Linked DNA regions of Homo sapiens. The protein of the gene in region 1 purifies or fractionates together with the protein of each later gene. This does not show direct contact. Each region holds a gene or a part of one and is shown on either strand. Other genes may lie near its edges. The genes, in order: SLC12A9, CLGN, ARL8A, EMC1, ATL3, GRSF1 and MRPS9.

Region 1 (4,233 bases):
TTGCTGTCCTCTTTAACGGCTGTACAGGCATCATGGCTGGGGCCAACATGTCAGGTGAGAGTCCCTGCCTGCTGCCTCCTGGGGGTTTGGGGCTGCCACCGTGAGGGACCCAGGGGGATGGCTGGAGGGCTGACCTCACTCCCTCTGCTCCCCCTCTCCAGGGGAGCTGAAGGACCCCAGCCGGGCGATCCCTCTGGGCACGATCGTCGCCGTCGCCTACACCTTCTTCGTCTATGTCCTGCTTTTCTTTCTCTCCAGCTTCACTTGTGACAGGTGTCTGGGGAGGGATGGGGGTGGAGTGTCGAACAAGATTGGTGCACCTGGGTCACCAAGGGGAAACACAGGCTGGGGGACTGGGAAGCAGAAACCCAGCTTGTTGGGGTGGAGGGTGGCTACCGGCGATTGACAACCTATAGCCAGCAGCTGCCATGGACCCAGTACTGTTGCAGGCACTTAGCTTGGGAGTGAGGGTGGGTAGTGGCTTTCTACCCAGTTTGCATTTCCACAAATATTTGGCCTCTTGTGCATATACCATTAGGTATGACAGCCGGGTGCGGTGGCTCACACCTGTAATCCCAGCACTTTGGGAGGCTGAGGCAGGAGGATCGCTGGAGCCCAGGAGTTCCAGACCAGCCTGGGCAACAGAGCAAGAGCCTCCCCCCAAATACAAAAATTAGCCAGGTGTGATGGCAAATGCTTGTAGTCTTGGCTACTTGGGAGGCTGAGGTGGGAGGATTGCTTGAGTCCAAGAGGTCGAGGCTGCAGTGAGCTATGATTACAGCACTGCACTTTAGCCTGGGGGTTGGAGTGAGACCTTGTCTCTTAAAAAAAAGGAAGGAATGACCACTGAGTGATTAAATCCAAGGCTGCCCAATGAATACCAGGCATATCCCTTTAGCACATTTGATATCTGAGTCTGATCCTTAAGATCGGGGCTGGAGATTTTCTTACCCCGTGACGCATGATCATCCGTGTCCTCCTTTTCCTCCTTCCTAGGACCCTGCTGCAGGAAGACTATGGGTTCTTCCGCGCCATCAGCCTGTGGCCCCCACTGGTGTTGATCGGAATCTATGCCACAGCGCTCTCAGCGTCCATGAGCTCGCTCATTGGTGCCTCCCGCATCCTCCATGCCCTGGCCCGGGATGACCTCTTTGGTGGGTTCTCTGCCTCCTTGCTGGCTTGGAGCACGCCCTCCCTTGTCTGTCTCTCCGTCCCCGCTGAGCCCTGGCTGATGTGTCTGCTGTGGATTCTGTTTTTCTAGGCGTGATCTTGGCACCGGCCAAGGTTGTGTCCCGAGGGGGAAACCCCTGGGCAGCTGTACTTTATTCTTGGGGCCTGGTGCAGGTGAGCCTTCTTCTTCAAGGGGCCCTTTCCCTCACCCCACCAGCTGGCAGGATGGGGGTGCAGTTAGATGCAGGCTGGGAGACAAATGTAAAGACAAATGCGTATGCACTTGGGGTTGCACTGGCACTCTGCAGGGTTCACTGGCACTTTGTGGGGTTCACCAGCACCTTGCAGGTTGCCCCAGTGCTTTGCAGAGTTCATTGGCACCCTGGGAGGTTCACTGGCACTTTTTGGGGTACACGGGCATTGTGCAGGGTTCACTGACACTTTTTGGGGTATACTAGTATTTTTCAGTATTCACTGGCACTTTGTGGGGTGCCCCAGCACTTTGAGGGATTCACTGGCACTCTGTGGGATGTACCAACACTTTGTGGGGGTTCACTGATACTTTGGAGGTTTGGTGGCACTCTGTGGGAGTGCATTGGCCCTTTCTGGGGATCACTGACATTGGGGGTGCACTTGCACTTTACAGGGCTCACGGGCACTTTTCAGGGTTCATTGACACTTTGGGGTGCACTGGCACTCTCTGGGGTTCATTGACACTTTGGGGGTGCGCTGGCACTTTGCATGGTTCACTGGTACTTTCCAGGGTTCACTGACACTTTGGGGGTACACTGGCACTTTCTGGGGTTCACTGACACTGGGGATACACTGGCACTTTTGGGGTTTAATAGCATTTTAGGGGCTCATTGACACTTTGGGGGTGCACTGGCACTTTTGGGGTTTAATAGCATTTTGGGGGTTCATTGACACTTTGGGGGTGCACTGGCACTTTGCAGGGTTCACTGGCACTTTCTGGGGCTCATTGACACTTTGGGGTACACTGGCATTCTTTGGTGTTCACTGGCATTTTGGGGGTGCACTGGCACTTTGGAACAACGGCACGCCTCTTGGCCCTTGCCCAGCTGGTGCTCCTGGCTGGGAAGCTGAACACACTGGCTGCTGTGGTCACTGTCTTCTACCTGGTGGCCTATGCTGCCGTGGACCTGTCCTGCCTGAGCCTGGAGTGGGCCTCGGCCCCCAACTTCCGGTGAGAGACTCAGATCTGTGTCCCCAGAGAGAAGAAGGGAGGACTCGGGCTCAGGCGTGGGGCTGGGGACTGCAGCCTCGTGTGCGGCCTGCCCTGAGTTTCTGTCCCTCCTCCCCTCCATGCCCGCAGCCCCACCTTCAGCCTGTTCTCCTGGCACACCTGCCTGCTGGGGGTGGCCTCCTGCCTGCTCATGATGTTCCTCATCAGTCCTGGCGCGGCTGGTGGCTCCCTGCTCCTCATGGGTCTGCTGGCTGCCCTGCTCACCGCGCGAGGAGGCCCCAGTAGCTGGGGCTATGTCAGCCAGGCCTTGCTTTTCCACCAGGTATGGGGAGCTGGTGGGGCGGTGGGGAAATGGGAGGTGGTCAAAGAACCCCCTCTCTCTTTGGCTGGAGTTGGTGCTCCCGTCCAGGAGGCGCTGAACGGGGCTGTGCATTTGATCCTGCCACTTCCCCACTGCCTCACCCCTATACCCAGGTGCGTAAGTATCTGCTTCGGCTGGACGTCCGGAAGGATCACGTGAAGTTCTGGCGGCCCCAGCTGCTGCTCCTGGTGGGGAACCCCCGGGGCGCCCTGCCTCTGCTGCGGTTGGCCAACCAGCTTAAGAAGGGGGGGCTGTATGTGCTGGGCCACGTCACCCTGGGAGACCTCGGTGAGCTGCCCTCCCACTCACTCACTCACTCCCATCCTTCTCTCCCCCTACCTTTTTTTTTTTTTTGAGATGGAGCTTCGTTCTGTTGCCCAGGCTGGAGTGCAGTGGGACGATCTTGGCTCACTGCAACCTCCACCTCCCAGGTTCAAGTAATTCTCCTGCCTTAGCCTCCTGAGCTGGGATTACAGGCACACACCATCATGCCTGGCTAGTTTTTGTATTTTTAGTAGAGAAGGGGTTTCACCATGTTGGCCAAGCTAGTCTCGAACTCCTGACCTCAAGTGCTCCGCCCATCTCGGCCTCCCAAAGTGCTGGAATTGTAGGTGTGAGCCACCACGGCCAGAACCCCTCCCCCGCTTTTTTTTGAGACAAGGTCTTGCTCTGTCACCCAGGCTGGAGAGCAGTGGTGCCATCATAGTTCACTGCAGCCTCAACCTCTTGGGCTCAAGTAATCCTCCTGCCTTGGCCTCCTGAGTAGCTGGGACTACAGGTGTGTGCCACCAGGCCTGGCTCATTTGTAGAGATGAGGTCTCTTTATGTTTCCCAGGCTGTCTGGAACTCCTGGCTCAAGCAGCCCTCCCACCTTGGCTTCCCAAAGGGCAGGGATTACAGGCATGAGCCCCGACACCAGCCCCTCTGCCCCTTTTATCCTTTCCCATGACCCCTCCAAGTAGCCATAGCCCTGCCCAGGCCCGTCTGTGATTTGGACTCTAGGAGACATTGAGTTTGGACAACACTGGCTACCTTCCTTTCCTTATCTTCTCTGTAGACTCCCTGCCCTCGGACCCTGTACAGCCGCAGTATGGGGCATGGCTCAGCCTGGTGGACCGTGCCCAGGTGAAGGCTTTTGTGGATCTAACCCTCTCACCCTCCGTGCGCCAGGGGGCTCAGCATCTGCTGCGAATCTCCGGCCTCGGTGAGCTGCTTCTCCCTGGATGCCCTCGGCCTTCCTCTGTGGCCACTTCAAATCTCCGCTCCCCTCCCCTAGAGAGTCAGCCACAGATTGCAAACTGCAAAAGGACCTTATAGTCGAGAGGAGATAAGACAGTGCTCAAAGATAATAGCCTCAGACAGTGTGTGATAAGGTCTAATAGGAGATGCTAGGGACTAGTGATGGGGTGGGCGATGTTGTGGGTTTTTTTTCCTTCTTCTTTTTTTTTTTTTTTTTTGAGACGGAGTCTCACTCTGTCTTGCCCAGGCTGGAGTACAG
Region 2 (4,233 bases), on another chromosome or scaffold:
TGTTTATTTAACTATTTTTTACTTAGAGGAATGTACAAAGAATTTATAGTTTAACATTATTAAATTCTGTTCCAGTTTTTTCCCGAAACCTTAACACTGTTTAGAAAAGGTTGGGCTAAATATTTCAACACAATGCATCTTAGAAAATGTATCATTAAATTCAGTTGCTATAAAGAAAAATTCTTACCTTACATTTGGTTCCTTGGGTCACTAGCGAAAAACCATCAAAAGAGTAGGTGAAGAGGGATTCTTGTTTTGAACCTCTTGTAACTAAAACATTTGATTTTTTAAATTTTATTTTAATAAGAGAAATAATATCCTTACTGAGGGTCTTATGTGTGAAATGTGTTTATATAAAAAAGAAAACAATTCTGAGGTATGATTTTTAGTAAGTTCTTTAAAAGTACAGAATGAATGATCAGAGTACAGAATGAATGATCACTTCAAATAAACCAGGTAATACATCCATAAAAGGTAGTTCTATTCTGAAATTTACCAAAAAGGAAAATTACCATTTTTCTTGCCAGTATGTTAGAAGTTTCCACTTTTGTCATAACATACCTTCTGCTATCAAGTCTCACTCAGTGATGCATGCTAATAATTAAATTAGACTTTACAAAGTATAAGGTGGGAAAATGAAACTTCTTTTACTTACGAGTTCATCACTCCTTAATGTAAAATGCCTGAGTAAATAAGTTTTTTTGTATCTTGTGTTACCCAGTAAAGGTTTGTAAAATTTGAATTGCATTTTTATGCTTATCTCGTCTATAGCCTGGTGTATTAAAACAGTTAATGGCAGCTGCTGAAGGGCACCCATGGCTTTGGTTGATTTATCTTGTGACAGCAGGAGTGCCAATAGCATTAATTACTTCATTTTGTTGGCCAAGAAAAGTAAAGGTAAAGAAAATGGATTTCCTTCAACTTTTTTCACCCAAATTTCTTGTTGTTTAAGAGTTCTATAAATTAAGCGATTCTTAAAAGTAATAAACTAAATGTCTCATAAGTTTTACTGATAGTTCATTATGTATGTTATCAATTATTGCAAAAAAACTTTCAAAATAGCACTCTGCCTTTAGTAAAAATAACTTATGTTAACTACCACAGAAAAAACATAAAGATACAGAGTATAAAAAAACCGACATATGTATACCACAAACAAAAGGAGTACTAGAGCAAGAAGAAAAGGAAGAGAAAGCAGCCCTGGAAAAACCAATGGACCTGGAAGAGGAAAAAAAGCAAAATGATGGTGAAATGCTTGAAAAAGGTAAGATGATGAGAGTGATTTATAATGGAGACTCTGGGTAAAGCTCATAAAACTGTATATGGCCTTGAAATAACTAGTTATTATACTTGTTTATTATCAAGTTTATACATCTGAATCTCCCAAGAATATGTGACTGTGGCAAGAAGGAATAATAGTCCTCTGAGCAGCCACCCTGTTTATAGTTTTTGCATTCTAGGAAGAAGGAGATTTAAATAGTGTTCAGTTGCTTGAGAGCCTAGCAGTTAATGAATCCCATAGGCCATAGCTTTTTGCAAGGATGTTTCTTGGCTCTGGGAGTGTAGAAGATGAGATGGAGGGTGATAGAGGGTGTATATCATGGCCTCTGTAGAAAAGGAATAGATATAAAACAGATGATTGCAGCAACAAAATCAACACCAAGTCTTCCAACAGCTATTGTTAGTCAGATGCTTATCATATAGAAGAAATAATTTAATTAATTTTCTGAAAGGATTGCTGAACCTATATCCCCTTCTCACCCTATGTTAAACTCTTGAAGATGTTAGAACTGAAGTCACCCTTTGGTGGCTGTCCGCTGAGACCTCCTTACATAAGGTAGAAATAAAACTATTGATTTGCCCAGTGTCCCAAGCCAAATGTCTTGAAGCACAGTGTTTAACTCACTTAATGAAACAGTTGACTTAAAAACACATATGTGTCTATCTATTTTTTAAGAGACAGTATATATATATATACACACATATACATACACATGTTCATGTGTGTATTAGGATAGGTATCTAAAACAACAAATGTTTCAGGTTGTAAGTTTCCAGCCTTGTTTTTGTAACTTCTTAGTGCTTAGTATATTGATGTCTGGATCAGCCTTATTTAGAGGGAATTTAAGTATCGGAGGGGCCTGCTTGTATAAAGGTACTTTCACCACTTTCATCTATACACGTAGTCCCACATTGGAACTACGTAGAAGAAGTAGAGTTGATTTTTCAACTTCCCTTTCCCCAAAGCCCATTCTTGGTAGGGTAGGAGTTTTTACTTTATATAGCTCCTAGGACGTGCTTAATATCTTTTGGTTAATAATGATGACAAAAGTTGGAGGTTCTGCTAAATGGAATCCTAAGGAGGGTCAATAACTGAAAAAATGCATGATGTCCACAGAGAACAAACATAAGTAAATAACATATTGAAGATTAAAAGATCACCAAAAATTAAAGGAAGTATTTTCCAAGACAGGAACACAGGAAAGATTATTATTTTTTGGTTTTCATATTACATACAGACTGAATGCTTAAGAATTTTTTAAACTTGTCCCCAAACTCAAATATGATTCATTTATAAAATATGATAATATAATGAGTATTTATAATTTTTAAAATTTTGAATGGAAGAAGTTGCTTCTAAATCTTGGAATAAATCTTGGAATTTAAATAAATCCCATTTATTGTATTTAATACTTTTCAGTAGCAAAATTCTAATTTATTGAGTCTTTGCTTTTAACAAAATCTGTATTCTAGAAGAGGAAAGTGAACCTGAGGAAAAGAGTGAAGAAGAAATTGAAATCATAGAAGGGCAAGAAGAAAGTAATCAATCAAATAAGTCTGGGTCAGAGGATGAGGTAACAGAAAATAAGCTGGTTTCTATGTATAGTTGTTATCCATAAAAAGTTTTTTCAATAAAAGCACCAATATGATTTATGAAAGAATTTTTGCCATATTTCTCTCAGCTTTTATAAGAGCCTCTATATTGTTTTTAAAACATATCCATAAGGAAGGAAAGAAAAATACTGTAATTTATATTGTCTCAATGCCTAGTAAAACAGTATAGAGCAAGCCTGTGGCGTACAAAATATAAAGATAGAATACATGTATCCAAAATTATGACTTTCTCATTGAAATTCTATTGAAAAGCATAATAAACACATTGTTTGAATATTTAAAAGATAATTATCATTATTATAATTTTTATAGCTGTTGTAAAACATCTTTATTGTCTCAACATTTTACTCTCACGTTTTAAAATATTTCATTCATTGGGTAGTTGAGTACTATCTGCCTGATAGGGTATTTTTCTCAAATCTTTAGTGAACTTTTCTCCCCCCTTATTAGTCTACCCCTTTTTGTGTCCTGATATAAAATGGAACTTTGCACAATGCTTTTTTTTTGTAAGTTATTATGGAATGAGAAATCCCGAGTATAATTAGAGCCAGAGCTGTCTTTTTTCTTTTTTGTTTTTAATCCAGCATAAACCAAAAACCAGTTTTCTCTGGCCCTTAAAGAGCTGGGTAGCCTTACCCCACAGAGTCACCATCCTAACATATTACATTCCAACTATGTAGGTAGGATAAAAGTACAGTTCTGCCTGCTCTTGCATGTGATGAAATGAATTTTGTATTTTATCTATTTAAAGAAATCCTCCAAATAAATTTGCAATTATTGTTAAGTCTTTCCTAATGTTTAATCAGTACACATACTGTTTGCTGGTCTTCCTGCCCTCTGAGTTTTTATAGGGACTTTGGGACCATTATTTAGTATGAATATCCATATTTAGGGAGAGCTAGGTGAAGAGAATTTCTTCCAGAGCCAAGTTTTAAATAATCATTGTTTCTGCTGTGACTTTCTTAAAATAATACCTGCAGTCATTTACTTGAATATGTATTCTATTTACATTTACTTTACAAAATATTTTGTGTACCTTCGAAAACATCTTAATTCCATCTTTCAGTCTTTCCGTCTTCTTATGTGTATGTGTCAGTGAGCTGGAATACATCGATTTTTGTATAGCCTTGAGAAATAACTATAACTTTATTTCATATAATACCTTCATAATAGCACTTGATTGATAGCACATATATTTTAGAGAATAATAAATATATTGTTTACTACTATCTACTAGTTATGTGTTATACTAAAAGAAACCTTTTCATAATTATTTTTTCTAGATGAAAGAAGCAGATGAGAGCACAGGATCTGGAGATGGGCCGATAAAGTCAGTAC
Region 3 (4,233 bases), on another chromosome or scaffold:
CGAGACCAGCCTGGCCAACATGGTGAAACCCCATCTCTACTAAAAATACAAAAATTAGCCAGGCATGGTGGTGGCCACCTGTAATCCCAGCTACTTGGGAGGCTGAGGCAAGAGAATTGCTTGAACCCAGGAGGCGGAGGCTGCAGTGAGTTAAGATCGTGCCGCCACTGCACTCCAGCCTGGGCAACAAGAGCGAAACTCCGTCTCAAAAAAAAAAAAGGAACCTAAAACATCCTTTGAGTTCTGAAAAAGTTGTGATGCTAGAAAAGTGGGAGATGTTTTGTCCTAGGAAACAACAGGGTCATTTTCAAATATTTAAAAGTGTCAAAGACTGTCCTATGGAATAACTAGTCTTGGAGTGCCCAAGGGGACTTAGGAACAATGGGTGGACATTCTAGGAATGATAGATTTTTTTTTCTTTTTTTTCTTTTTTCTTTTTTTTTTTTGAGACAGAGTGTTGCTCTATCACCCAGGCTGGGAGTGCAGTGGTACAGTCTCGGCTCACTGCAACCTCCGCCTCCCAGGCTCAAGCAATTCTCCTGCCTCAGTCTCCCGAGTAGCTGGGATTACAGGCATACACCACCATGCCTGGCTAATTTTTGTATTTTTAGTAGAGATGGGGTTTCGTCATGTTGGCCAGGCTGGTCTCGAACCCCTGACCTCAGGTGATCTGCCTGCCTCAGCCTCCCAAAGTGCTGGGATTACAGGTATGAGCCACCATGTCCGGCCGGATTGTTAACTCAATATAAAGAACTTTCTGATAGTTGGAACTGACCCAAGAGGGGATGGGGCAGAAGGGACTGAAGTCTGAGACAAGAGGTTGGGCTGCATGACTTCAGGTTACTTCCAACCTTAAATGAGGAGCCTATGAGACAGGGAGGCATTAGCAGGGAAATTAAGTCATAATCTGATTCCACCTTAGCTCCGATTCACAGCTGAACAAGACCTACTGGTGCCGGGGAGCCTGGCTCCTTGAAGGTCCTCCCAGCATCCCCCTCTGCCAAGGTCACATTCTGCCAGGCTGGGCTTCTCATTTACTTGGTAGCCTGTGGATCTTCTAGTTGCCAAAGAGCAGTGATGGTTCCCCATGCTATATCGAAACCATTTCCAAGCATGTTGTGAGTCTTATTTACAGTTCCTAGGAGACCGAAACCCTTCTCCCCAGTTTTACATTCAGAAACACTGAGGTCCAGAGAAGTTCAAGTTTCTTATCCAAGCACCCCCTGGGATGAGAGACAAACAAGAACTGGGCCTCCTTCCTCAGACTCTATTGTTGGGGATGGGGTAGACTGCAGCAGGCTGCCGGGGTTTGGGTAATTACAGCACACTTAATTCTCCCTGCTTAGCTAGAAGAAGCCATTCCCTCTTCCTCAGTGGTTCCTAACTTTGGGGGCTCTCAGAACTTTTTGATATCTGAAAGAAGTGAGAGACCCTTTCTCCAGAAAAATGTACACACAAACAAAACTTTGCACACACACAGATTGTGTACAGTTTCAGGGGGTTCAGGGGATCTCTGAAGCCCAACTGTGGACCTCAGGTTGGAAACCGCTGCTGGACCTTGTCATTGGGTGTCAGTCCTGGGTACTCAGTTCTTATATCATCCTAAGGCCCTGATGAATAGGTGGTTCCTGCAGATAAAAGGGAATTGGGCTGGGCGCGGTGGCTCACGCCTGTAATCCCAGCACTTTGGGAGGCCGAGGTGGGCGGATCACGAGGTCAGGAGATCGAAACCATCCTGGCCAACATGGTGAAACCCCGAATCTACTAAAAATACAAAAAAAAAAAAAAAAAATTAGCTAGGCATGGTGGCACGCGCCTGTAGTCCCAGCTACTTGGGAGGCTGAGGCAGGAGAACTGCTTGAACCCAGGAGGCAGAGGCTACAGTGAGCCGAGATCACACCACTGCACTCCTGCCTGGGCGAGAGAGTGAGACTCCGTCTCAAAAAAAAAAAAGGGAATCAAAGCAGTCTATTCAGATGGGATATCAGGGGTCTTCATGTGGACATGGAGGCACCAAATAAGAGCCAATCATCTCCTACATCTTGGCTAATGGTCAGGGCCCCTGATCTCTTTATGTAACCCAAGGCAAATTATTCCTACCAGCTGGTGGGAGAAAAAGGCATGGTAAAGGAACAGGGCTTGGCCGGGCACCGTGGCTCACCCCTATAATCCCAGCGCTTTGGGAGGCCCAGGTAGGCAGATCACTTGAGGTCAGGAGTTCAAGACCATCCTGGCCAATGTGGTGAAACCCTGTCTCTACTAAAAATACAAAAATTAGCTGGGTGTGGTGGCACATGCCTGTGGTCTCAGCTACTGGGGAGGCTGAGGCAGGAGACCCTCGCTTGAGCCCAGGAGGCAGAGGCTGCAGTGAGCTGAGATCACATCACTGCACTCCAGCCTGGGCCATAGAGCGAGACTCTGTCTCAGAAAAAAAAAAAAAAAAAAAAAAAAAAAAAGGAACAGGGCTATCACCCTCAGGTTCAATGTTGAATGAGCCTCATCTTTTTTTTTTTCTCAAGCCGGAGTCTTGCTCTGTCACCCAGGCTGGAGTACAATGGCATGATCTCGGCTCACTGCAACCTCCACCTCCTGGGTTCAAGCGATTCACCTGCCTCAGCCTCCCAAGTAGCTGGGATTACAGGCACACGCCACCACACCCGGCTAATTTTTTGTATCTTTAGTAGAGATGGGGTTTCACCATGTTGATCAGGATGGTCTCAAACTCCTGACCTCGTGATCTGCCCCCTCAGCCTCCCAAAGTGCTGGGATTACAGGTGTGAGCCATCGCGCCCGGCCGAGCCCCATCTCTTTAGCCTGCTTCCAAGGGATAAGCAGAAGTGTCCTACCTGTGAACATGGAGATATGACCTGGGAGGGAGTTGGGTCTGGCCTTATTTGAAGACTGTAGGTAGTTTAGAAGAATCCAGAAATCCTAGAGACAATACAGAATGGATTTTGGAAAATGGAATTACAGTCAAACCCCCAGTATTCAGCAAACATTTACTAATGGTGTTACTATAGACCTGGGTCCTCTCCCAGGAAGTGTTCTTTCTAGTGAGGAGACACATAGATAAATAAGCAGACGATATAGAGTGTAGGTTATCCTTCCCAATAACTGGAGTACAGTACAAATAAACTGAACCATGGATAATCCAGAAATTGCTTGGCATGCACTGCATTTTCAGGATGACCAATATACTCTGCCCTAAAAAGTTTGATTTTTTAGTTTGAAAATTCATCTGCTTTCTTTGAGATCCTCCTTAACTATTAGAACATGACTTGCTTCAAGTTCTCTTGCTGGAAGGTAATTTCTTCTTCCTCTCCACTGGAGAGAAAGTGGCGTCAGTTACTACAGAGAGATGTAGGTTAGACTTGAGGAAGAATTTTCCCCTAGTCTAGGCAAAGAGATTGAGACTGTCTGACAAAAGCGGGTCTTTTCACAGGGCATCCCCAGGTGTAGGCGGGACACATAGGTTGGTGATAGCCCATCCTGCCTGAAAGCACAGGATGTGCAAGAGTACCCCACAGTGGGAAGTCTAGGAAGCTCTGGCCTGGCCTCTGCATGGTTCTCGCAGCCTCTTGGTCTGCGGTGGGGGCATATCGATTTTTGCACTGTTTCCCATTCTGAGTCTTCTTTCCAGTCAGGACAGTTCAACGAGGACATGATCCCCACCGTGGGTTTCAACATGCGCAAAATCACCAAAGGGAATGTGACTATCAAGGTGAGGGCCCAGAAGCTTGGGGGGTGCAGAGGACTGTTTTTGTGTGTGTGTGTGTGTGTGTGTGTGTGTGTGTTGGGGAGGGCAACGGAGGCCCCTGGGAGGAGCGAGCTGAAGTGGGGCAGAGGCCAGGGTCCCCCTGCTGAGGAGCTGGGAAAAGACAGTAGAAGACTTCTAAGGTAGACGGAGAGCGGGTGGAGACGGGGGAGAACTGGAGAGGAAGCCGGGGAGGCAGAGGAGAGTAGGGCAGGGTAGGAGGGGGCATTTGAGACCCAAGACACGTTTTGGTGGCCTGCCCACTACTGAGGCTATCTCACCCTCTTCTTGCTCAGCTCTGGGACATTGGGGGACAGCCGCGTTTCCGCAGCATGTGGGAGCGCTACTGCCGAGGAGTGAGCGCCATCGTGTAAGTACACGGGAGGCATCGCCAGACTCCAGCCTTACCCGGCCCCCCTAGCCCTGCTACCTTCGAGGACCTCAGAGGCGCAGGGTTTTATTAGACATAATCCTTGGTT
Region 4 (3,500 bases), on another chromosome or scaffold:
TTACTTGAACCTGGGAGACGGAGGTTGCAGTGAGTTGAGATCACGCCACTGCACTCAGCCTGGCAACAGAGCGAGACTCCATCTCAGAAACAAAACAAAACAAAACAAAAAACAGGTTGGGCAATATGGCGAAACCCCATTTCTGCAAAGCATACAAAAATTAGCCGGGCATGGTGGTGGGTGCCTGTAGTCCCAGCTACTCGGGAGGCTGAGGTGGGAGGATCACCTAAGCCTGGGAGGTCGTGGCTGTAGTGAGCTGTGATGGTGCCTCTGTACTCCAGTCTGGGTGACAGAGTAAGAGCATCTCAAAAAACAAGCAAACAAAAAACAAACTAAGACACAAACACATTAGCCTGGGCCTAAATAGGGTCAGGATCATCAATATCACTGTCTTCCACCTCCACATACTGTCTTACTGGCAGGTTTTCAGGAGCAGTAACACCCATGGAGCTATCATCTGTGATAACAATGCCTGTTTCTGGAATACCTCTTTTTTTTTTTGGGACAGAGTCTTACTCTGTCGCTCAGCCTGGAGTGAAGTGGCATGATCTCAGCTCACTACAACCTCCACCTCCCGGGTTCAAGTGATTCTCATGTCTCAGCCTCCCAAGTAGCTGGGACTGTGGTGCACAGCACTATGCCTGGCTAATTTTTGTATTTTTAGTAGAAATGGGGTTTCACCATGTTGGCCAGGCTGTTCTTGAACTCCTGACCTCAGGTGATCTGCTCGCCTCCGCCTCCCAAAGTGCTGGGATTATAGGCATGAGCCACTGCGGCCAGCTTGGAATACCTCTTGAAGCACCTGCATGAGACTATTTTACAGTTAATTTTCTTTTAATAAGTAGAAGGAGTACTCTAACCATAAAAAGTAGATACGTAAACCAGTAACACAGTCATTTATTATCATTGTCAAGTATTATGTAGTATACATTATTGAATATGCTGTACTTTTATACAGCTGGCAGTACAGTGGGTTTGTTTACACCACCTTCACCGCAAACGTGATTAATGCATTCGACTACAATGTTATAGCAGCTACAATGTTACTAGGTTATAGGAATTTTTCAGCTCCATTATACTCTTGTGTGACCACCACTGTATATGCTGTATATGCGATCAATCATTGACTGAAACATTGTTTTGCAGTGCATGACTGTATAGTAAAACGTTAAAAGTATATGTACAAAGCTGGGCACAATGGCATGCACCTGAAATCCCAGCTACTTGGGAGGCTGAGATGGGAGTATTACTTGAGCCCAGGAGTTCAATCCAGCCTAGGCAGCACAGTGAGATCCCATCTCAAATAATAAAAAGTGTATCTATAGTGGTGGTTGTATTAGTTTTCTCAGGCTGCTATAATGAAATACCATAGACTAGGTGGCTTAAACAATAGAAATTGATATTCTCACAGTTCTGGAGGCTGGAAATTCAAGATCAAGGCATTGGCAGGTTTTGTTTCCTCTGAGGCCTCGCTCATTGGCTTGCAAAAGGCTGCCTTCTTGCTGTATCCTTACATGGCCTTTACTGTGCTTACACATCCCTGATGTCTCTTCCTCTATTGGATTAAGGCCTCACCCTTTTGACTTTATTAAAACATAATTACATTTTTAAAGGCCTTGCCGTCAAATACTGTAACACTGGGGGATAGGGTTTCAACACAGGAGTTTTTGAGGATACAATTCAATCCAGAAGAGTGATATATTACATTTTAAAATTTTTATTATTTATTTATTTTTTATTGTTTTGAGACAGAGTCTTGCTCTGTCACCCACGCCGGAGTACAGTGGCATGATCTTGGCTCACTGCAACCTCCGCTTCCAGGGTTCAAACGATTTTCCTGCCTTAGCCTCCCAAGTAGCTGGGATTATAGGTGCCCATCACGCCCAGCTAATTTTTGTACTTTTATAAGAGATGGAGTTTTACCATGTTGGCCAGGCTGGTCTCAAACTCCGGACCTCAAGTGTTCGGCATGCCTGGACCTTCCAAAGTGCTGAGATTACAGGTGTGAGCCACCGTGCCTGGTGGAGATTTTTAAATTGTTATAAGTGTTCCCCCCACCCACTCATTTTCTGTAATAAGGAGGCATTACTTTTATATCCAGATAAAACAACAGTATTTTATTTACTTATTTATTTGAGACAGAGGCCCACTCTGTCGCCCAGGATGGAGTTCAGTGACACGATCTTGGATCACTGCAACCTCTGCTTCCTGAGTTCAAGCGATTCTTTTGCCTCAGCCTCCCGAGTAGTTGGGATGACAGGCACGTGCCACCACGCCCAGCTAATTTTTGCATTTTTAGTAGAGATGGGTTCTCACCAAGTTGGCCAGCTGGTCTCGAACTCCTGATCTTAAATGATCCACCCACCTTGGCCTCCCAAAGTGCTGGGATTATAGGCGTGAGCCACTGCGCCTGGCCTGTTTATTTTTTTGAGACAGAGTCTTGTCAGGTTGGAGTGCAATGGTGTGATCTCGGCTCACTGCAGCCTCGACCTCCTGGGCTCAAGCGATCCTAATCGAGAAAATTATTAGCCTCACATGGTAGGCTACCAAGTACAAAGGAGGTGCTTGCTCTGTGCTGTTAAGAAGTGCTGTGATCTCAGTCGGGCGTGGTGACTCACGCCTGTAATCCCAACACTTTGGAAGGCCGAGGCGGGTGGGTCAGTTGAGGTCAGGAGTTCGAGACCAGCCTGGCCAACATGGTGAAACCCCATGTCTACTAAAAATACAAAAAAATTAGCCGGGCGTGGTGGCAGGTGCCTGTAATCCCAGCTACTCGGGAGGCTGAGATAGGAGAATCGCTTGAACCTGGGAGGTGGAGGTTGCAGTGAGCTGAGATTGCACCATTGCACTCCAGCCTGGGGGACAAGAGTGAGACTTCGTCTCAAAAAAAAAAAAAAGAAAGGTAAGGTGCCCTTTTGGGTGTCACTTATCTGAAGGTAAATATGTGCTTCCATTTAGAAGGAAGAGTTAGTATTATCTATTAGGAGCTAATTTTCTTCTCTTACTCTCTTTGCATCTGACTACATTGAATGGAAATCTTGCTTTTGGTCAGAGCTCTTCACTAACAAACACTTCTTTTTTTTGAGATGGAGTTTTGCTCTTGTTGCCCAGGCTGAAGTGCAATGGTGCGATCTCAGCTCACTGCAACCTCCGCCTCCCGGGTTCCAGCAATTCTCCTGCCTCAGCCTCCCGAGTAGCTGGGATTACAGGCATGCGCCACCATGCCCAGCTAATTTTGTATTTTTCATAGAGACAGACGGGGTTTCTCCATGTTGATCAGGTTGGTCTCGAACTCCTGACCTCAGGTGATCTGCCTGCCTCGGCCTCCCAAAGTGTTGGGATTACAGGTGTGAGCCACTGCGCCCAGCTAACAAACACGTCTTATGTGTCCTAAAATGAATGTGATGGTGATAGCCCTGTGATTTTTTTTCCGGAGCATTTTGTGGAATGGTGATTTTAGCTCCTTATGGTCCCCTGTACTCTTTTTTTCTCAGGAGACA
Region 5 (4,233 bases), on another chromosome or scaffold:
ACTCTAGCTCTGCAAAACAAAAACTTAAAAAGTTAGCCAAGCGTGGTGGCACGCACTGGCAGGAGGATGGCTTGCATTCAGGAGGCGAAGGTTGTAGTGTGCTGAGATTACCACTGAACTCCAGCCTGGGTGACAGAGTGAGGCTCTGTCTTAAAAAAAAAGAAAAATTTAAACAATTAAAAAATAAATTGATGCAATGGAAATAATATTTTCCTTGAATTTTGGAGATTTAATTTTTGCTAAAGATTCTTATGTATAAGAATACATATTTCTATGTATATGAACTTCTACCTTTTTTTGGTAGAAAATTTGGCAGAAAAAGTGTATTCTATTTCATCAGTTGAACTATATGGAAATCTAGAAAAATAGAAGGTTAATAAAAAAGGAAGAATGGGGAATAGAGAAGATTTTTGTTAGGTTATTTGTGGAGGAATGTTAAAAGAGGAAGGATTTACAGTTCACGTTTTTCTCTCTTAAAAGGCCACTGCTGAAGCCAACAACTTAGCAGCTGCAGCCTCTGCCAAGGACATTTATTATAACAACATGGAAGAGGTACGTGGGACATACGCCTTATTCTGAAATATCTATAATCTGGGCATTGTTGCTGACTTCAAAAGCCCAACTTGATCCTACTTAATGTATCTTTAAGTGATGAGGCAATAAACTTATATTCAGGTTGTCCTGGTAACGGGGGCCTTCTAATTATTACCATTTCTTTGTTTGTTTGTTTGTTCTTGTTTTGTTTTGTTTTGTTTTGAATAGCAAATAGTTTATTGGTAAGTACATAGTTTCAATGGGAGTAATAAATTCACATGAGCAGGAGACAATAATCAAGTCAAAAGAATAAATGCTTACTAATCATCAGAAAATCTGTGGCCATTAAGGCTGGCACATAAAAATCCAAAATCACTCAGAGGCCGAATCTTAAAAGAAGATTCGTCCTCTTATTAGTTCATATGGAATAGGTCCATAGTAACTGGAATCTGTAGAATTCTGTAGATTTATCACCTTCTAACCAAACATGACCCACTGGGACATAACTGTAGCTTTTAAAGAAATCTGATGGACTAGTGGTGAGGATTTTGTCTCCTTCCAAACCAGTTACTCTTTTACAAATATTTGATGTTGGATCACTTGGGCTTTTTGCAATCACAATGTCACCTCTTTGGATACTATCAAAATGTCGACTAAGATTTTGTGCAAAGACAGTATCTGAATTTTGAATTGTAGGCTCCATTGATGGTCCAGAACACATGACAACACCACCAACGTATTCAGAAGCACAGTGAGCTATACAGCCATACTGAATAGCATAGCCAACAAGTCAGAAGGTTTCCCCAGAGCACCACGAAGCATAGTTCTATGTAGACTCTGCCACCATTGGTCATAGATCTGTTCTATAATTCATTTAATTTTTAGGGAAGTCGCAGGGCTTCCAGAAAAAAAAAATTAAAGCATGTCTCAAAGCGTATGTGGGTGATCCATGATTTCAGGAATCCTCGGGTCCCAAAGAACCCTGAGGACCCTCAACCAGGACACAGGTGGGCCTTTCTCACCTGGGCCCTGCAGAAGTCGACCGTTTGCTTTTGTTTTTTAGAGACGGAGTCTCACTCTGTCGCCCAGGCTGGAGTGCAGTGGTGCGATCTCGGCTCACTGCAACCTCCGCCTCCCGGGTTCAAGCGGTTCTCCTGCCTCAGCCTTCTGAGTAGCTGGGATTACAGGTGCCTGCCATCACGCCCGGCTAATTTTTTTTGTGTTAGTAGAGACGGAGTTTCACCATGTTTACCAGGCTGATTTCAAACTCCTGACCTCAAGTGATCTGCCCGCCCTGGCCTCCGAAAGTGCTGGGATTACAGGCGTGAGCCACCGCACCCGTCCCAGTGTCACTGCTCTTTCCAATTGATATTATCACCCTGGTTTTTTAAGTGTGCTTTTCAGAGGAAGTGAAACTAGACTTTATTGGTCTTAGTCATCTTTTAAAAGTTAACTTATTAATACATTGTTAACATCTTAAAACATTCTAATCCTTTCATTATCTTTTCATGTTTTATTTGGCACTTGTTTTTGAAGAGATCTTTTAACATATTGTTTCTTTGTTCTTTTTAGGTTTGTGGGGGAGAGAAACCTTATTTGTCTCCAGACATTCTAGAGGAGAAGCACTGTGAATTCAAACAACTTGCTCTGGACCATTTTAAGAAGACCAAGAAGATGGGTGGGAAGGATTTCAGCTTTCGTTACCAGCAGGAGCTGGAGGAGGAAATCAAGGAATTATATGAGAACTTCTGCAAGCACAATGGTAGCAAGAACGTCTTCAGCACCTTCCGAACCCCTGCAGTGCTGTTCACGGGCATTGTAGCTTTGTACATAGCCTCAGGCCTCACTGGCTTCATAGGTCTTGAGGTTGTAGCCCAGTTGTTCAACTGTATGGTTGGACTACTGTTAATAGCACTCCTCACCTGGGGCTACATCAGGTATTCTGGTCAATATCGTGAGCTGGGCGGAGCTATTGATTTTGGTGCCGCATATGTGTTGGAGCAGGTAAGTGGTGCTGCTGAAGAGCCTGAGGGTTGATAATGGGCAGATATTTGTGCTTCTGTTGTAAAATATCTCAGTTTGGAAGAATTTCATAGTGAAGACATGAGACAGTGGCCACTCCGTTGGCTGTTGTTTTCTGATAGACTGTATGTTTTATTATCCTTTAGGATATTAATATTTATTCTTAATATTTTGTTTCCATGTCTAAAAAGGCCCCCGCCCCGCTTTTTTTTTTTTTTTTTGAGACAAAGTCTCGCTGTGCTCTCTTGCCCAGGCTGGAGTCCAGTGGCATGATCTTGGCTCACTGCAACCTCCGCCTCCCAGGTTCAAGTGATTCTCTTGCGTCAGCCTCCCAAGTAGCTGAGACTACAGGTGTGTGCCACCACGGCCCGCTAGTTTTTGTATTTTTAATAGAGACAGGGTTTCACCATGTTGACCAGGCTGGTCTCGAACTCCTGACCTCATGGTCCGCCTGCCTCGGCCTCCCAAAGTGCTGGGATTACAGGTGTGAGCCACCGTGCCCAGCCCAAAAATAGCCCTTTAATGCAAAAACATTCCAACTTAGACATACTGATTGTGTTCCCCTTTGGCAACTTTTTTTTTTTTTTTTTTTTTTGAGACAGATTTTTACGCTTTTGCCCAGGCTGGAGTGAAGTGGTGTGATCTTGGCTCACTGCAACCTCTGCCCACTGGGTTCAAGTGATTCTCTTGCCTCAGCCTCCCAAGAGTAGCTGGGATTATAGGTGCCTGACACCATGCCCAGTTAATTTCTGTATTTTTTTTTTTTTTTTTAGTAGAGACAGTGTTTTGCCATGTTAGCTAGGCTGGTCTTGAACTCCTGACCTCAGGTGATCCACCCACCTCGGCCTCCCAAAGTGCTAGGATTATAGGCATGAGCTATTGCGCCTGGTCGGCAACTTCTAATTACATGCTCTTCAGACATAATTTTTATGTGATTCTCACTTCTCACCCCCTCTAGATTAATTTACTTCATTGAAAAGCAAGAACTTTGAAAAAATTATGAACTTAACGAAAAATGTTCGGTTTTGAGTCCTACTGGATTAGGAAAGGGATGGTATCTTTTTTATTTAAAAATCTTCCAAAAGCCAGTGGCTTGGTTATTTATTTATTGGGTTGCTTATTTATTTATTTATAAAATTTTTTTTGGAGACGAGGTCTTGCTTTGTCACCCAGGCTGGTATCTTAGCTCATTGTAACTTAAAACTCCTGGGCTCAAGTGATCCTCCCACCTCAGCCTCCCAAGCAGCCGGTGTTACAGGCGAGTGCCACCACACCTGACTAACCCAGTAGCTCTTGGACATTGACATGGTCACAAGTTTTGTAGATCTTTGAGATGATACATTTGTTTTTCTGAGTAACATGAACAGGTGAGTTGGGTTAGCAGCTTGTGAAGCCACAGGAGCTGCCTATCCTACCCTAGCCACAGAGCAGATGTTCCCCTGGCTCTCTTGGGAGTTAGCTGCTGCCACAGCCTCTCTGTATCCCTGCATTTTCATTCAACTGCTTTCTGTAACATGCCGATGATGGAGACAGGTTTTTGAAAGTTTAAGGACTTACTTTCTTGTTGCTGTGTTGTATTTTATTAACTTATATGTTGAATAAATGGACTTTTGCAGGCTTCTTCTCATATCGGTAATTCCACTCAGGCCACTGTGAGGGATGCAGTTGTTGGAAGAC
Region 6 (4,233 bases), on another chromosome or scaffold:
AGATGTTCTAATGCTGACATAAAACCTTGAAACTATAAAAGGGGAGATTTAAGAATTCAGCGATGTAAAAATAGTTTCTGCCATCATGAGCAAACAAAGAGGACAAACTGGGGGGAAAAGGTATTTAAAGCTCACTATAGGAACAAAGTACTCCTGCAGATTAGTTAAAAGACCAAAGCCAATAGAAAAGCGGTTAATAAACATCACACAAAGGCAATCAGCCAAACTCAGATTATGGAAACCTACAGGTTAATCTTATTTCTTCAGCAAATAAGAAAAAAATAAATGGATGGCAAAACATCCTGAATAAGAGAAGAAACAGACACTTCAACTTTACTAAAGATATCCAAATGGCTAGTAAGCTTATGAAAAAGTACTATTCATTGTCAGGGAATGCAAATTAAAACCAGAAGATACCACTACACAATGGCTAAAATTATAGACTGACAACAGCAAATGGTAAGGATATGGACCTACTAGAACTCTGGGAATGTAAACCAGGATAACCATTTAGGAAAAGGTTTGTCGTCTTCTAGTAAAATTTAAAATACATCAACTCAGGATAATCTCACTCCTAAATACTTATCCAAATTAAATTAAATTAAAATGTAGGTTCACAAAAAGGTTGTACATGTTCATACCAACTTTATTCATGATAGCCCCAAACTAGAAACAGCCCATTGTTCACCAGTTAGTTGTTCACCTAACAGGTGAAACGTTAAAATGTGGCATTCATACATAGAACACTGCTCAGCCATAAAAAGGAACAAAGCTTAAACACACTGATGAACATACAAACATGCTGAGTAAAAGGAACTTACAGAATACATACTGCATAAGTGAGTCCGTTATATGAAGTTCTAGAATAGGCAAAATTAATCTACAGTGAACAAAATCCTAACAGTAGCTGACTGCCAGGGGAGGGAAGAAGGGACAGGAGAGAGAGGTGCAGGAATTGACTAGGTGAAAAAATTCAGATGTAATACAGATGTTCCAGACATAGGGGTTTGAGTTACATGCTTTTACATCAAAACTCATCAAATGAGTCTGGGTATGGTGGCTCACACCTGTAATCCCAGCTACTCGGGAGGCTGAGGCAGGAGACTCCCTTGAACCCAGGAGGTGGAGGTTGCAGTGAGCCAAGACCAGGCCACTGCACTCTAGCCTGGGCGATACAAGACTCCATCTCAAAAAAAAAAAAAAAAAAAGAAAAAACCTCATCAAATGATACACTTAACATTTATTCACCTTACTGCAAATCTCCCTCAAAAAAACTCCAATGACGGCTGGGTGTGGTGGCTGATGCCTGTAATCCCAGCACTTTGGGAGGCCGAGGCAGGCAAATGACTGGAGGCCAGGAGTTCCAGACCAGCCTGGCCAACATGATGAAACCCCATCTCTACTAAAAATACAAAAATTAGTCAGGCGTGGTGGTGCACATCTGTAATCCCAGCTACTCGGGAATCTGAGGCATGAGAATTGCTTGAAACTGGGAGGTGGAGGCTGTAATGAGCTGGGATCACGTCACTATAACTCCAGCCTGGGTGACAGAGCGACTGTCTCAAACACAAAAAACAAAAACAAAAACAAATTCCCATGACATGTATGCTGAAAGGATTAAAAGTGAAAAATGTCTACAACTTACTTGGACATGCATATAGAAAAAAAGATGAGACTGCAGGAGGCAGGCTATGGGATAAAGCATGGCAAAATGCTGCTTGTACAATCTAAGGGATGGGTATTGGCATCACCAAGATTTTATATACTGACAGAAAATGATCTTTAGGGTGTTTAGGTGGGAGAAAAGCCAAAATACAAAATAGCATGTACAGTATAATTTATATTTTTAAAAGAAATGACAACACCCACTAACACTTGCTTATAAATAAAGTAAAAGTCACTGCAAGCTTACACTAGAAACTGATAACAGGGCTGTGCGAGAATAGAAACTAAACAGCTGAATTACAGGAGGGGAAGGAGAATCTTCACTACCGTTTGTATCTCTTCAAGTTTATTTCCTTCAAAAAATAAAATATAAACAACTTTAAAATGAGCCTGCTTTTTTTTTTTCTGAGACAGGGTCTCACTCTGTCACTCAGGCTGGAGTGCAGCAACAGTCATGGCTCACTGCAGGCTTGACTTCCCAGGCTCAAGCAGTCCTCCCACTTCAGCCTCACAAAGTGCGGGGATTACAGATGTCAGCCACCACACCTAGCCTATTCTTGATTTTCATATAATCAGGCTTAAGACAGATTAAACCTTCCTTCCTATACTTCCTTTCTAAAAATAAGAAAACCACTAGAACTAAAATTCTGGACAGAAAATCCAGACACCTCACCAATGATGATATAAGGATGGCAGATTAAGTATATGAAAAGGTGCTCCACATCACTATGGGATTGGGAATTAAAACGATGAGACCACTATTCACCCATTAGCTAAAATGCAAGAGTGACATCACCAAATACTAATGAGGGTGAGGAGCTACAGGAACTCTTATTCATTGTCAATGGGAATTCAAAATAGTCATGTTGGAACAGTTTGGCAGTTTCTTCCAAAACTAAACATACTCTTAACTTACAATCCAGCAACCTGGTTCCTTGGTATTTACCCAAAGGAGCTGAAAACGAGTCTACACAAAAACCTGCACATAAATGTTTATAGCAGCTTTATTCCCTTCCTACAAACTTCAGATTCTCTTCTAATTTGCTGAACTTGGGGAGTGGGAGGGTAATGTATTTCTAATGCGATAGCGCAATTTGGATTGGAACTCTACTGCTGACATACATACCATTCTCCTCTATACTATAGGTCCTACCAATTCAATGTGAGTGTCTTCCGATAATTTAGGGGAAACTCTCAGAACAATGGAGTTTTTTGTATTTTGGTTTTTTTGATTTTGACAGAGTCTCACTCTGTTGCCCAGGCTGGAGTGCAATGGTGTGATCTTGGCTCGCTACAACCTCTGCCTCCCAGGTTCAAGCGATTCTCCTGCCTTGGCCTCCCAAGTAACTGGGATTACAGGCGTGTGCCACACCTGGCTAATTTTTGCATTTTCAGTAGAGCCGGAGTTTCACTAAGTTGGCCAGGCTAATCTTGAACTCCTGACCTCAAGTGACCCACCATGGAGGGTTTTAAATTCTGAAACAAACAGGATGTAACCCCAAAAAATAACTTTCCAAATGAGAACTGAGTAAGGGCTGTTCAGGGCAGAGGACATTAACAAGGCATGTTGATTAATAAGCAGATTCATGGCACACAATGTTGCCTTCAAACTGGGTTCCTTATGCTTCCCCCTTCAAGTAACACAGAAGTAGTGAGAATTTGGAGCCTTCCTCCCAGGGAAGATTCGGTCCCCCTTCCCACATGACAGAAGCTTAAGTTACCCACGCATAAAGGGACACATACTCTATTTCTGCTTCATTGCCTGGTGTCAATATTTAGATGAGACCACAATATTCAGATGAGACCACAATATTCAGCAATCAGCTCCCTGGTATTTACATACTGCTTCTCAGAGTTCTCCCTTGCACTCCGTAAGCAGCAGCTAGGCTAAAGCAGGATATGAGCACCCTGACCATATGCCCCACTCCCACTATTCTTCCTGATGGCTTTACCACAAAGGAAGTTATAGACACAAGGAACCCAAACAGAAGGAAATTCACCATCACTGCTTCCTTCAATAGCAAAGAGTGATGCAAAACAGTCTTCTCAAATGTGGGGAGACGGTACCGTCTTCCACTTGCATGGAAATAAGATTACTTTTACTGTATTATGTGCTTCTCTTCCTTTCCCATAACTACATCCACCTTAGCAATCACTTACGTACTAGCCTAGATCATGAACAAAAACAAAAGGGAGCATTCAAATACATAAAATGATTTCCCAATAATGGCCACATTTTGTACAGAAAACTCAGCCTGTAGCGTGCCAAGAAGATATATCCTTTCAACCTTACCCATCCATCATATAGCATTTTAATGCTTTGCTTGCATTCTTTTTCCAGAGATGTGCAAATAAAACTCATTAGCTTAAATCAATTGCAGATGAATTCCTCACAGTAGGCCCCACAGATCTTTTCCACAGCAAATCAGATACCAAATGTGAAAGAGCAACAAAGATCACATTCTAATAGTTCGTACAACTACAGATACCAGTTCTCATAGCTTGGCATATTCAACCATATATGAAAACGCATTTCCATCTAGGCAGTACTACTGATGATGTTAAGCT
Region 7 (4,233 bases), on another chromosome or scaffold:
TTGAAGAACAAAATTACCCCACAATGAGCTTTATTGCATCTGTTGTGCTGTAGTTTACCTGCTTTATTTTTGTTTGACTTGAAATAATAGTTATAGGACTTGCTTATGTACAGTGTTGTGTATTATTTTGGGGAAACAAATTTTAATGTAGTTTTACCTGTCTCAAAGCGCAGGTCTTCAAGATATTTACTAATAGGAATTTTATATTTTTGAAGGTAAAAGAAAGACTGCAAAAGCAGAAGCAATTGTTTATAAACATGGAAGTGGAAGAATAAAAGTAAATGGAATTGATTACCAGCTTTACTTCCCGATCACACAGGACAGGTTCGTTTTGGGTTCTGATTTTTTGTTTTTAAAGGAAACATACTTTATAATACATCATGATCATTTAAGAAGGCTTGTGATCTTCTAATTCTGTTTATCTGAATGATTATTTCTCTTTACCAATGTAACATATCAAACTAGCTAATTGAAGCTATTTTTTAAAGCAGCTTCCAGATTTTTTAAAAAGCATCTCTAGAATTCCTCATTAATTGACTCTTCTTCCCCTTTTCATCAGATCCTACTGCAGTTTGAGTAGTCTTAGATGTAGCTTATGTTCTGAAGTGCAGACTGTGCCAAAATGTAAAAAATTTTGATTTAGATTTCCACCTTCTAGTTTGGGGATGGGCGTGCACAAAACAAAACCACCACCACAACAACCAGCCTTGGCACTTAAAACTGACCTAACTCACAAGGCAAAGAAAAGTGCAAGTAATTTCTTGTGGCTTGTGTATGTTTTTCTGATCATAAATATTAGAAAAATTCTGCTTTATCATTTTGGATTTTTTCCTATTCAGAGGAATGTGATTATATATATTGAGCAAGCAAAGAAACCTAGCATTTATGGGTTAAAATAAGAACTCATCAGGCTTTGCTTAGTTCTGGGTGCTAAATATGGCAGTTTTAATTTTTAAACTTTGTATCCTATGGAGAAATAGACATTAATCATAAATAGATACTACAGCTCTTCTAATCTAAATATACTCATCTCAGAACTCTCTCTGACTTGCTATATAAAGGCCTCTTCTTGATATGGTTATTATTTTCCCAGTACTTACTGTCATTATCCACGAGTAACAGAAGTTTGGTATGATTAGTTCCTCCTTTCCTAATCCTTCTCCTGTTTCCTGCATGTGTTACGGTATTTAAGGTCAAAAGGGCTAAAACTCTTTTGATACCAATGCTGATATAGGCAAAAGAGGACCCTCCTAATACAGTGTAAGCTTCTGGACACAATAATTATTTTAGGAAATGTGTGTTTATTTTATTTGTGTGTGCCTGTGTCAACAAGCAGTGCATTCTTAACTCCATTTAAGATGAATTAGTTCTGCTATTATCCTCACAGGACAGGGGATGGAAGAAGCTTTTATTTCCCTTAGGAAAAGCCAGAGAGAAACCCATACCCCAGGGTTTGATAACTTCAACATTGGGAACTATAGGAGGACTGTTCTTTAACCAATAACCTGTCTGTTGATTTGTATTCAGACATAACTCCTGATGATTTAACAGCAAGTCTCAATTCTGGCTTGATCTCATAATGAAATTACATCTTTAGATCTTATTCTTTGGTTTGAATTCAGCAGCTTTTTACTAAGGACATCTATGTCTCCAGTCTTGTTCTGGGCATTGTGAAGATATCAGAGATATTTAAGATATGATTCCTATTGTCAAGAAACTTCCTACATGGTTGGGAAGCCTAAGCCTAGTCTTGGTGGGAATGGGCACCTACAACTATTTTAAAGTAGTTGTAAGGATTTAGGGCAGTCACTTCAGGAACTTACAAATCAGCAGTGAGGTGACCATTGACTAATAGGAAGACTAACCAACCCAGAATCAGGGATCTTGATCGGAATTCTGTCATCACCTAACACACAGTGAAGTGGGTTAGCCACGTAAGTGAAGTTACAAGGGAGGCTTCTGGACAGCCATTTGTTTGGGAGCTTAAACACTTTCCTGGCTTAATTTTTAAAATTTTATGATTCTTTAACAAATGCTTATATAAATAAAAAGAGACTTCAATTAAAATCTAGAAAAATAGATTTCATAATGTAATTACTGGATATATAACTGAGTCATGGAGCCAGATGGTCGAGGTAAATGCAATAGTGGAATTAGATTTTCAGTCTGTACATTTTTTTTTTCTTTTTTTTTTTTTTTTGAGATGGAGTTTCGCTCTTGTTGCCCAGGCTGGAGTACAGTGGTGCAATCTTGGCTCACCACAACCTCCGCCTCCTGGGTTCAAGCAATTCTCCTGCCTCAGCCTCCTGAGTAGCTGGGATTACAGGCATGCACCACCATGCCTGGCTAGTTTTGTATTTTTAGTAGAGACGGCGTTTCTCCATGTTGGTCAGACTGGTCTCAAACTCCCGACCTCAGGTGATCTGCCCGCCTCGGCCTCCCAAAGTGCTGGGATTACAGGCATGAGCCACTGCGCCCAGCCTAAATTTTCTTTTATATTTACTTTTTTTTTTTAAGAGACAAGGTCTCTTTATGTCACCCAGGCTGGACTCAAACTTCTGGACCCAGACTGGACTCAAGCTGCTGGGCTCAAGCAGTCCTCCCACCTCAGCCTCCTGAGTAGCTTGTACTTTAGGTGCTCAGCTTAAATTTTCTTTAGTTATCATAGTATATTAATAGATACTACTTATAATACTGTTTTTATAACTTATGGCTACTTTTCATTTGGTTTCTTGGAAGCATTTGTTCAAAAAGACAGTATAGATTTATGAGTTTTTTGTTGTTGTAGGAGTTATGTCATCCCTACATCGTATTGTTATAAATTCCGATTTGCTATGGCTTTTGAAAGTCATCTTTTGCCCATCTGCTTGTGATTATTTTACTAGTGTGGTATGAAGAATAGCACTTGAATGTCCTGTCCATACCTGTCTCTCAGCTTAACTGTGTTATATAAACTTGATTTTGGGTCTAGAAGCTACAGCATCAAAGAAAGCAAACGCAATATAAGTGAGCTTTTCTGCATAAAAGTGTAGCAAGATATTAAGGCAAAATAGCAAAATCAAAGTGCTTGACAGAGGTAATGGTGAACATCTTACCTGGCGTGAAAATGATATTCAACAAATACTTGTTCAGTTGAGCAGGAGAAAGTCCAGGGCCGTGTTTTGTCTGTGGTGCCTGCCCCAGGATCTTGTAGGCCCTGACCGACCCTGAAAGAGCAGGCCTGACAGGGGTTGTGTAGAATGTCACCTGGCCCCAGGAAGGTAGCAGGACCCTATGATTTAGAGAACTTTAAGAATATTGGGAATAGGTGTTTGGTGTCAGGGAAGTGCAAGGTCGAAAATAGTTTTAGAAACTTTAAAAACTAACCATATCAAGATGAGCATTATACATTATACAGATACACTTATAGTAGACTTTATTTAGTGAATCCAAATGACATGTGATAATTGTTTGGAAAGGCCTATTGATTTTATATCTGATCATTCAATCCAGAGACATTAAATTCAGTTGATTAATGGAGTTCCCCAACTGTAAGACTTCTTTACGAGATTATTTTCAAGCTTTGAAAAGATCTTCTGAGATAAAGGGGATCAGCAAACAGTAAGAGTGTGTTGCTATACCCAAGCAAAAGAAATAAATCTTAATCTCTCAGCAAATCATTCAAAATGTCAGAAATGTTAGTGTTTCTATATCTTGGTAAAATGGATTGATTGAGAAGTATGAAAAGTATAACAGTGGCATGCAGAATATTGTTTTTATGAATATTCAGAATTTCAGTTGTTTACATAATTATGTATCTTTATAGTAAACGTAACCACATTTACTTGTGCTGTGCTTTAGAGAACAGCTGATGTTCCCTTTCCACTTTGTTGACCGGCTGGGAAAGCACGACGTGACCTGCACAGTCTCAGGGGGCGGGAGGTCAGCGCAGGCTGGAGCAATACGACTGGCAATGGCAAAAGCCTTGTGCAGCTTTGTCACCGAGGACGAGGTCGAGTGGATGAGACAAGGTATGAGTCTAGGTGGGACGGGCATGGTGGCCCAATACTGGCTATACATGTTCATCTGCTTCTTGTCCTAGTGCCTGAAGTTCGTAAGAAAATATATAGTTACATATGTAATATTTCACTTCGCTGTCTTCTTTCTTGCTACAGAACCATAACAGTATTTCTCAGATTTGATTTCTACAAGGTGAGCTTGAATTAGAAAAAGGGGAGAACTCCCCACACTGAT

What was found.
Region 2: the proteins of SLC12A9 (region 1) and CLGN purify together in Homo sapiens (co-immunoprecipitation; 2 studies listed by BioGRID and IntAct, with this or other methods). This does not show direct contact.
Region 3: the proteins of SLC12A9 (region 1) and ARL8A purify together in Homo sapiens (affinity purification with mass spectrometry; one large-scale study listed by BioGRID and IntAct). This does not show direct contact.
Region 4: the proteins of SLC12A9 (region 1) and EMC1 purify together in Homo sapiens (affinity purification with mass spectrometry; one large-scale study listed by BioGRID and IntAct). This does not show direct contact.
Region 5: the proteins of SLC12A9 (region 1) and ATL3 purify together in Homo sapiens (affinity purification with mass spectrometry; one large-scale study listed by BioGRID and IntAct). This does not show direct contact.
Region 6: the proteins of SLC12A9 (region 1) and GRSF1 purify together in Homo sapiens (affinity purification with mass spectrometry; one large-scale study listed by BioGRID and IntAct). This does not show direct contact.
Region 7: the proteins of SLC12A9 (region 1) and MRPS9 purify together in Homo sapiens (affinity purification with mass spectrometry; one large-scale study listed by BioGRID and IntAct). This does not show direct contact.

What each region holds. Positions count from the first base shown.
Region 1 is NC_000007.14:100,858,889-100,863,121, forward strand, and holds part of SLC12A9 (solute carrier family 12 member 9), read left to right. Parts: coding exon 1-54; intron 55-161; coding exon 162-273; intron 274-996; coding exon 997-1,154; intron 1,155-1,261; coding exon 1,262-1,344; intron 1,345-2,249; coding exon 2,250-2,374; intron 2,375-2,503; coding exon 2,504-2,696; intron 2,697-2,848; coding exon 2,849-3,023; intron 3,024-3,792; coding exon 3,793-3,939; intron 3,940-4,233. UniProt on the Homo sapiens protein: May be an inhibitor of SLC12A1. Seems to correspond to a subunit of a multimeric transport system and thus, additional subunits may be required for its function. May play a role in lysosomal ion flux and osmoregulation.
Region 2 is NC_000004.12:140,389,250-140,393,482, reverse strand, and holds part of CLGN (calmegin precursor), read left to right. Parts: intron 1-771; coding exon 772-897; intron 898-1,104; coding exon 1,105-1,264; intron 1,265-2,754; coding exon 2,755-2,855; intron 2,856-4,178; coding exon 4,179-4,233. UniProt on the Homo sapiens protein: Functions during spermatogenesis as a chaperone for a range of client proteins that are important for sperm adhesion onto the egg zona pellucida and for subsequent penetration of the zona pellucida.
Region 3 is NC_000001.11:202,137,856-202,142,088, reverse strand, and holds part of ARL8A (ADP-ribosylation factor-like protein 8A), read left to right. Parts: intron 1-3,640; coding exon 3,641-3,721; intron 3,722-4,050; coding exon 4,051-4,124; intron 4,125-4,233. UniProt on the Homo sapiens protein: Plays a role in lysosome motility. In neurons, mediates the anterograde axonal long-range transport of presynaptic lysosome-related vesicles required for presynaptic biogenesis and synaptic function. May play a role in chromosome segregation.
Region 4 is NC_000001.11:19,245,025-19,248,524, reverse strand, and holds part of EMC1 (ER membrane protein complex subunit 1 isoform 1 precursor), read left to right. Parts: intron 1-3,494; coding exon 3,495-3,500. UniProt on the Homo sapiens protein: Part of the endoplasmic reticulum membrane protein complex (EMC) that enables the energy-independent insertion into endoplasmic reticulum membranes of newly synthesized membrane proteins.
Region 5 is NC_000011.10:63,629,345-63,633,577, reverse strand, and holds part of ATL3 (atlastin-3), read left to right. Parts: intron 1-480; coding exon 481-552; intron 553-755; exon of another isoform or gene 756-1,384; intron 1,385-2,106; coding exon 2,107-2,538; intron 2,539-4,172; coding exon 4,173-4,233. UniProt on the Homo sapiens protein: Atlastin-3 (ATL3) is a membrane-anchored GTPase that mediates the GTP-dependent fusion of endoplasmic reticulum (ER) membranes, maintaining the continuous ER network. It facilitates the formation of three-way junctions where ER tubules intersect.
Region 6 is NC_000004.12:70,815,158-70,819,390, forward strand, and holds the end of GRSF1 (G-rich sequence factor 1), read right to left. Parts: 3' UTR 626-4,233; downstream 1-625. UniProt on the Homo sapiens protein: Regulator of post-transcriptional mitochondrial gene expression, required for assembly of the mitochondrial ribosome and for recruitment of mRNA and lncRNA. Binds RNAs containing the 14 base G-rich element.
Region 7 is NC_000002.12:105,093,315-105,097,547, forward strand, and holds part of MRPS9 (small ribosomal subunit protein uS9m), read left to right. Parts: intron 1-215; coding exon 216-324; intron 325-3,737; exon of another isoform or gene 3,738-3,840; coding exon 3,841-4,010; exon of another isoform or gene 4,011-4,084; intron 4,085-4,233.